Linked DNA regions of Homo sapiens. The protein of the gene in region 1 purifies or fractionates together with the protein of each later gene. This does not show direct contact. Each region holds a gene or a part of one and is shown on either strand. Other genes may lie near its edges.

What was found.
Region 2: the proteins of CELF1 (region 1) and MBNL1 purify together in Homo sapiens (co-immunoprecipitation; one study listed by IntAct). This does not show direct contact.

What each region holds. Positions count from the first base shown.
Region 1 is NC_000011.10:47,542,915-47,546,952, reverse strand, and holds part of CELF1 (CUGBP Elav-like family member 1), read left to right. Parts: intron 1-4,038. UniProt on the Homo sapiens protein: RNA-binding protein implicated in the regulation of several post-transcriptional events. Involved in pre-mRNA alternative splicing, mRNA translation and stability.
Region 2 is NC_000003.12:152,271,929-152,275,428, forward strand, and holds part of MBNL1 (muscleblind-like protein 1), read left to right. Parts: intron 1-3,500. UniProt on the Homo sapiens protein: Mediates pre-mRNA alternative splicing regulation. Acts either as activator or repressor of splicing on specific pre-mRNA targets. Inhibits cardiac troponin-T (TNNT2) pre-mRNA exon inclusion but induces insulin receptor (IR) pre-mRNA exon inclusion in muscle.

The DNA.
Region 1 (4,038 bases):
TGGGATTACAGGCATATGCCATGACCCCCAGCTAATTTTTTGTATTTTTAGTAGAGACGGAGGTTTCTCCAGGTTGGTCAAGCTGGTCTTGAACTCCTGACCTCAGGTGATTCACCCACCTCAGCCTCCCAAAGTTCTGCAATTACAGGTGTGAGCCACTGTGCCTGGCACAGCGTTTTCAAAAAATGTGTGCTGAAAAAGTATCACATGAAGAGGATAAGAATTGACAAGTTCCTGCCTTTGCTTTATACCTATAATATATGAATGGCTTTCTTAGGTGGACCAATTTCTAGGTATCTTATGTTGTGCACAGATAAATTTGTAAATCTGTCATTAATGGCCTAGTTAGAATAATACTTTCAGGTATGAACATTTCAAAGATACTCATAGGTCTCTCAGTTTGTTCTAGTGTGAAGAAAGTTGGCCCGGCGTGGTGGCTCATACCTGTAATCCCAGCACTTTGGGAGGCCAGGGTGGGCGGATCATCTGAGAAACCCCGTCTCTGCCAAAAATACACAATTAGCCAGGTGTGGTGGCGCATGCCTGTAATCCCAGCTACTTAGGAGGCTGAGGCAGGAGAATCGCTTGAACTAGGGAGACAGAGGTTGCAGTGAGCCAAGATCAAGCCACTGCACTCCAGCCTGGGCTACAAGAGCAAAACTCCATTCCCTCCCCCGCCCCCGCCCCCGGCCCCCGCCCAAAAAAAAAAAAAAAAAGATACTGAGAGTATCTGTCAATTGCATGAAAGGCCTTTCTCCTATTTTTCTCCCTTAAAAAGATGTAGGGAGGCCGAGGCAGGCAGATCACAAGGTCAGGAGATCGAGACCATCCTGGCTAACACGGTGAAACCCCGTCTCTACTAAAAATACAAAAAATTAGCTGGGCATGGTGGCAGGCACCTGTAGTCGCAGCTACTTGGGAGGCTGAGGCAGGAGAATGGCGTGAACCCGGGAGGCGGAGCTTGCAGTGAGCTGAGATGGCACCACTGCACTCCAGCCTGGGTGAGAGTGGGAGACTCCATCTCAAAAAAAAAAAAATATATATATACACACACACACACACACACACACACACACACACACGCAGACACACACACACACACGTATACATATGAGAGAGAGGGGCTGGGCATGGTGGTGCATGCCTGTAATCCCAGCACTTTGGAAGACTGAGGCGGGCAGATTGCTTGAGCTCAGGAGCTTGAGACCAGCCTGGGCAACATAGCTAGACCTCATCTCTACAAAAAATACAAAAATTATTGTATTTTCCTACAAATTTTGTAAAACTTTTCTACTAAAAAAAGAAGAAATAGAAATAAGGTCTCTGGCAGCTAGGCAAACTTTATGCTGTAAGACTTCAGATTCACTCCTTGTTATTAACCTCTTAATGCTCCTTGTTATTAACAATATGTTCCTTATTAACCTCTTAATAACCTCTTAATAACTCTTGTTATTAACCTCTTAATAATGAGTATTGGAGACTTTATGGTTCTGAATGAAGGTCAGTATTTATTTGTTCTTTTGAGACAGAGTCCCGCTCTGTCGCCCAGGCTAGCGTACAGTGGTTCAATCTCGGCTCACTGCAACCTCTGCTGGGAGGGGTTCAAGCAATTCTCGTGCCTCAGCCTCTCAAGCAGCTGGGATTATAGGTGCCCGCCACCATGCCCGGCTAATTTTTGTATTTTTAGTAGAGATGGGGTTTCTTCATGTTGGTCAGGCTGGTCTCGAATTCCCGACCTCAGGTGATCCGCCCACCTCGGCTTCCCAAAGTGCTGGGATTACAGGCATGAACCACTCCACCCGGTCTTAATTTTTGTATTTTTATTAGAGATGGGGTTTCGCCATGTTGGCCAGGCTTGGCCAGGCTGATCTTGAACTCCTGATCTCAAGTTATCCGCCTGTCTGGGCCTCCCAAAGTGTTGTGATTACAGGCATGAGCCACCATGTCTGGCCTATTCTTTGATTCTTGATTTTTTTATTTTTATTTTTTTGAGAGTGAGTGTCACTGTTGTTACCCAGGCTGGAGTGCAGTGGCACCATCTCAGCTCACTGCAACCTCCACCTCCTGGGCTCAAGTGATTTTCCTTCCTCAGCCTTCCGAGTAGCTGGGATTATAGGCATGTGCCACCATACCTGGCTAATTTTGTATTTTTAGTAGAGATGGGGTTTCTCCATGTTGGTCAGGCTGGTCTCAAACTCCTGACCTCAGGTGAACTGCCCGCCTCAGCCTCCCAAAGTTGATTGCTATTAATATAATCCTATAGTTACCAGAACACGTATACTAGAATTACAGTACACTGAAATGGTCAAAAGGCAAATAAAATAGAAATAAGAAAATTTTGATGAAAATCTGGAGAATTAAGTCTTTCTGTAATTGAGAGTTGATTTTTTGATTGTGGAATCCTTGAAATGGTTTGAAAGAATGATGTGACTTGAATGGGCTTTATAAACACAGCCTGGTAAGGATAGCTGTGACAGCTTGGGACAGTGGATTTGGGGTACCACCAGTTAACATTTCTGGCCCTGTTTTCCTGTCTTTAAAGTGGAGATACCAACTCAGAATAGTAATGTGAGGATTAATTGAGGTAACTTATGCTAGGCACTGAACAGTGCCTGATACAGTATTGATAATGCTGTTTCTTTTTCCATGTGTAAAATGGGCATACCACTAGTCTCTTGGGTCAGTAATGCATTTCAGCCAAATGAAATAAATAACACAGGTGAACTGCCTAGGAGTGCCATACATAGATGAGCAGTAGCTACTATGTCAGTGTTCCTTTTGTTCCCTTTTATGAGTGCATTTTGTTTTGCATTTTCTTGTGTCTGTTGTGGCTTAAGGGATAAGATTTGTGTGTCTGAAATGCTGTGCTAAACAGGACGTTGTTCCTTGTGGAATACTTGGGTAATATGGTTTCCTAGATTTCATATTCACTATTTCTACTTTGAGAGTCTACTGTTAGGAGGCTTCTGTGTTCAAAGAAAACTGAAAATTATAAATGAATATTTTGGATTTGTAATAGGGGACACTTGGGTCTCTTCGTAGTTTCAAGTGACAAGTTGAGGCGGGGAGGAGGGCTCTAATATTTAGAGTTGTAATGCAGATTTAAGACTTAATCAGTTTTAGCTATTTGCTTTGTAAACTATATTGTATCAAGAGTCCTTATTTGCCGAAAACAGCTTTCTTTTTTTTTTAGAGACGGGGTGGGGACAGGGGTCCACGGGTCCGCTATGTAGCCCAAACTGGTGCAAACTCTTGAGCTCAAGCAGTCCTCCTGTCTCAGCCTCCTGAGTAGTTGGGATTGATTACAGGAGGGCAACATCATGACTGCCTTGAAGACAGTTTCCTTGATGAGACCTTTGTAAAATAACTTTGGTCTTGTCATAGAATTGGCTTAGAATCTTCTTAAAGTAGAGGTTTCTTTATAGAATTCTATAGTTATTTTTTAACCTCTGCTGTGCTGTGGAGGCCATGAGTACATATTTGTTTATTTTACACTTCATTAAGTTCCAGATTTGTAAAGTTTGGGGCTTTTTTGGGCTGTTGTTTTCCGAGACAAGGTCTCATTGTGTCACTCAGGCTGGAGTGCAGTGGCGTTATCGTGGCTCACTGTAGCCTCAACCTCCCAGGCCTCAAGTGATTCTTCCCCACCTCAGCCTCCCAAGTAGCCGGGACTATAGGTGCGCAACACCACGCTTGGCTAATTTTATTTTTTGTAGAGATGGGGTCCCACTATGTTTCCCAGGCTGGTCTTGACCCCCTGGTCTCTAGCAATCCTCCTGCCTCGGCCTCCCAAAGTGCTGGGATTACAGGCATGAGCTACCATGCTGGCCTTCTTTTCCATTAGAGACAGGATCTCTCTTTGTTGCCCAGACTTGAGTGCAGTGGTGCAATTATAGCCTGGAACTCTTGGGCTCAAGCGATCCTCCAGCCTCAGCTTTCCGAGTAGCTGGGACTACAGGTGCACACTGCTACACCTGGCTAATTTTTGTAGTATTTGTAGAGACGGGATCTCTCCTAGTCTTGAACACCTGTCCTCAA
Region 2 (3,500 bases), on another chromosome or scaffold:
AAAGTAAAACATCTGATTAATATTTTTATATTTATGATATGTTTTAATGATAATTTTTGATATATTGGTTCTAATAGAAGATCTTACTAGATTAACTTCACCTGTTTCTTTTCTCTCTCTCTCTCTCTCTCTCTCTCTCTCTTTCATGGTGTCTAGAAAATATAACAAATGTGGCTAACATCGTATTTATTTTGGACAGTGTTGTTCTAGGATAAAGCAGGAAAACAATATTCTGGGAGAAAGCTTAAAGATTTTGCTGGTCAAAACAATAAAATTGGCTTATTTTATTATACATAGAAATACCTCGTCTTTCTTATCCATTGTAACCAAAATTTGAGAAAACACACCACCTAACATCTATTTTTATTTCCTCAAAGCTGCTATTTAGTTTAGAGATTTGATGGTGAGGTAGTAATAATAGAGAAAAACTTATAATTAGAGAATGAGTCTTAACACCTCTCAAAGGCCAAAATAGAGTATGATTGTTACTTAGGAACATTTTAGAGACACTGTAGTTATCATTGTCCTGAAGTTACCAAACATAAACGAGTCACTAAAATTATTTTAAAATAGAGATTTTAGTAAATAGCAATTATCTTCAAATACTTAATATGTGTTTTCTTTTGCTAGAACTTTCTTTAGAAAGTTAAAAAAAAAAACCCATATCCAAAGTCCTGAGCAAATGTTAATAAAAGATTGCTGCATTCATAAGAATGAAAGATTTTTACCTGCAGATAGGAGGGTATTGTTTTGAATATTAGCAAAGGTGAAAATGTGTTTCTAACGTAACATTATGGGCTCTGAAGAATTTCTATACATGGAGACACTGTCTTTATAATTTGAACACATTCTTGAGAAGGCATCTGACTGGTAAACAAAGCACAATGGCATAGGTCCTGGAAACATTCCTTTCAGATATTTTCATAACTGAAGTACATTTTGCCATTCACAGTGAGTGTTAAGCTGAAAAAAATGTGGTTCTTTTCTAGCCATATAAAGTATGCTTACTATTATTTTCTCGAAGGATGCCAAAAAATGTAAAATGGATGTTGTGGATTCTTCGTGGGGAGGTTAGCTAGTTTGTATATAGAGCCTCAAGAAGAGTTGCCTCAGCTTGGTGCCATCTTGAGTCTGTCTTCCACTAGATGAGGCATAGCTTCCATTAGTGTCAGTGCGTGTGTGGAGGGTGAGGGGAAGAATGATCCCCATTAACTTTGTATATTGTTTCTGATGAGTCATGGAGCATATTCACTAATGGTTGGAGAATTATTGATTGCAAGGCAGAGGATTCAAGAAGAGCTATTGGCATATGGCATTAACTGTCTCTAGACATATTTTTTATTTTTAAATTTGAGGTAGAGAAATCGGTTTTTACGTAGTGTTTTTCATATTATAAAAAATAAACGTTTATATAAGCATTACAGATACATCCTTGAGGAAAAAAATAGTAAATACATGGTTATAGTTTTCTACATATTACCAGTTTTTTTCATAACAGATCCAGAACATCTCTTTCAGATAATCGTTCATGTTTTTAGAGAGGCATCTCATCATATGTGCCTGTGAAATCTGTAAAAATATGTGTAACACACATCTTGAAATATTTGTGTTAGGAGAATTAAGTCTTACACATTTGGTTCTTTTTCTACTGTTTTTGATTATGTTCTCTAGGTTACTATGATTATCTTTTGTTAAAACAGTTCAGGAAATATTAATCTCAAAACGAAATGTAGCCATATTGGACAGAGTAGAGAATTGCTTTTCCACAGAGACCAGTTATTCCAAAAAGGTGAAGATGTTTCTGAAATAATATCATGCTCATATGCTCCAAAAGAAAAACCATCATCTCTTTTGACATTCTTTTAGGAAACTGAGAGATGTATGTTTTATATACCAAAAGAGGTGAATAATAGTTGATAAAGGTATGCAAAATACATACTCCTGTGAAGTGTGAACATACAATTTGTATGTAACGCATGCATGAGCATATAACTTTCCCCAAGACAATGCCAATTTATTCAAATCACCTGAATGTTAAATAATATCATACTATTAAGAAGAATTGTGGTAAATATGAAATCTAAATACCAGTGATGATGTCCATGCTGATGTCAACTCCATTCCAGTCCTGCTTTAGCTAAATTCACAAAATGAAGAGATGTCTTTCTCCAAAGTAGTTTTCCAAAAATTTGTATTTGACACTGGATTTTTTCCTACGTTTTCACTTTTAAAAGTTTAGAAGCTATTAACTAAAAATGAACTTGTTTTAGAGAGCTAAGAAGATTCTAGATTTATGGGGACATTTAGTTCTATGAAATAAGCATTACGTTGCTGACTTGAAATATTATTCTATCATATAAAGTTGATTTATAAGTGAATACATATTGTGAAAAAATACCACAGTAGACTTAGTGAAATCTACCAAACTTAATCAAGATAGATATACGTTGTCCTCAAAAAAATAAGAATCTGGTAGGGAAAATAAGAGCTTCGAAAATAACTATAAAGTAGAAAGTGATATTTAATAAACAATGGCTGGGTAACATGGTATGAAAGTTCAGATAAGGGAAAGTCTTAAGATAACTCTGACTTGACCCACATACATGTAATAAAGGGAACAGTCCTTAAATGCATAAATAATGGGAACAAAAGGTATTCAGTATTTTTCAGCCTTAGCAAAATATTATTCTGTTAACGCAGTATTCTATTCAGCAATGGTTCCATATTTTCCATATGTTTATAGATAACATTCAGATATCGAATTTTCATATATGTTTTAATTCATTTATTTATTTCTTTTATCTAGGAGAAATATAATGGTTTCCAAATGTCCTATACTAGATTATTGATAGATTTTGTCATTAGTTTTACTATTGAATACCATGAAATATCAGCTGTTGCAGCCACTAAATAGTTACAAACTGTTGGTACTACAGTTTACTAGTCAATCCATGGTTATATGCTTGTGCTATGCTAAATATAAAGGATTCAAGATGAGGACTTAAGCAGTTCATATTTGTATTTAGAATATTATCAAAGATATTTTCTTAACTTGTCTCAGTATTAGAATTTACAGCCCATTTTCAGCTTATTGTATCCAGAAATTTCAATCATATCCAATAATTTATCAGCATTTGTTGATGACAGTAAAAGTGACACATTAGCATTTTATTTGTTTCTGTGTTGTTTGATTACAACAGTGACATTTTAGCACTCTTTGTGGACGGATAACTCTTCTAGTAGAAAGAAAGCAGGAGGGTGGTCAAGCTAAGTGACAGATACAAAGAGTTGGAGGACATAGGGCTTTCTGTGGGTAAGAAATGGATGAGAAAAGCTTTATGTCACTGACTAGGCTTGCAATTCAGTATTCCCCTATCAAAGGCCCCCTTACTGATGTTTCTGTTTACCAGATCTTGGTTTCAAGATGCCAGGTTCTGAAGAGATACACCACGAGTTCTTATAAACACTATATCTAAATTTGGTTTGAAAGTCTAATGTTT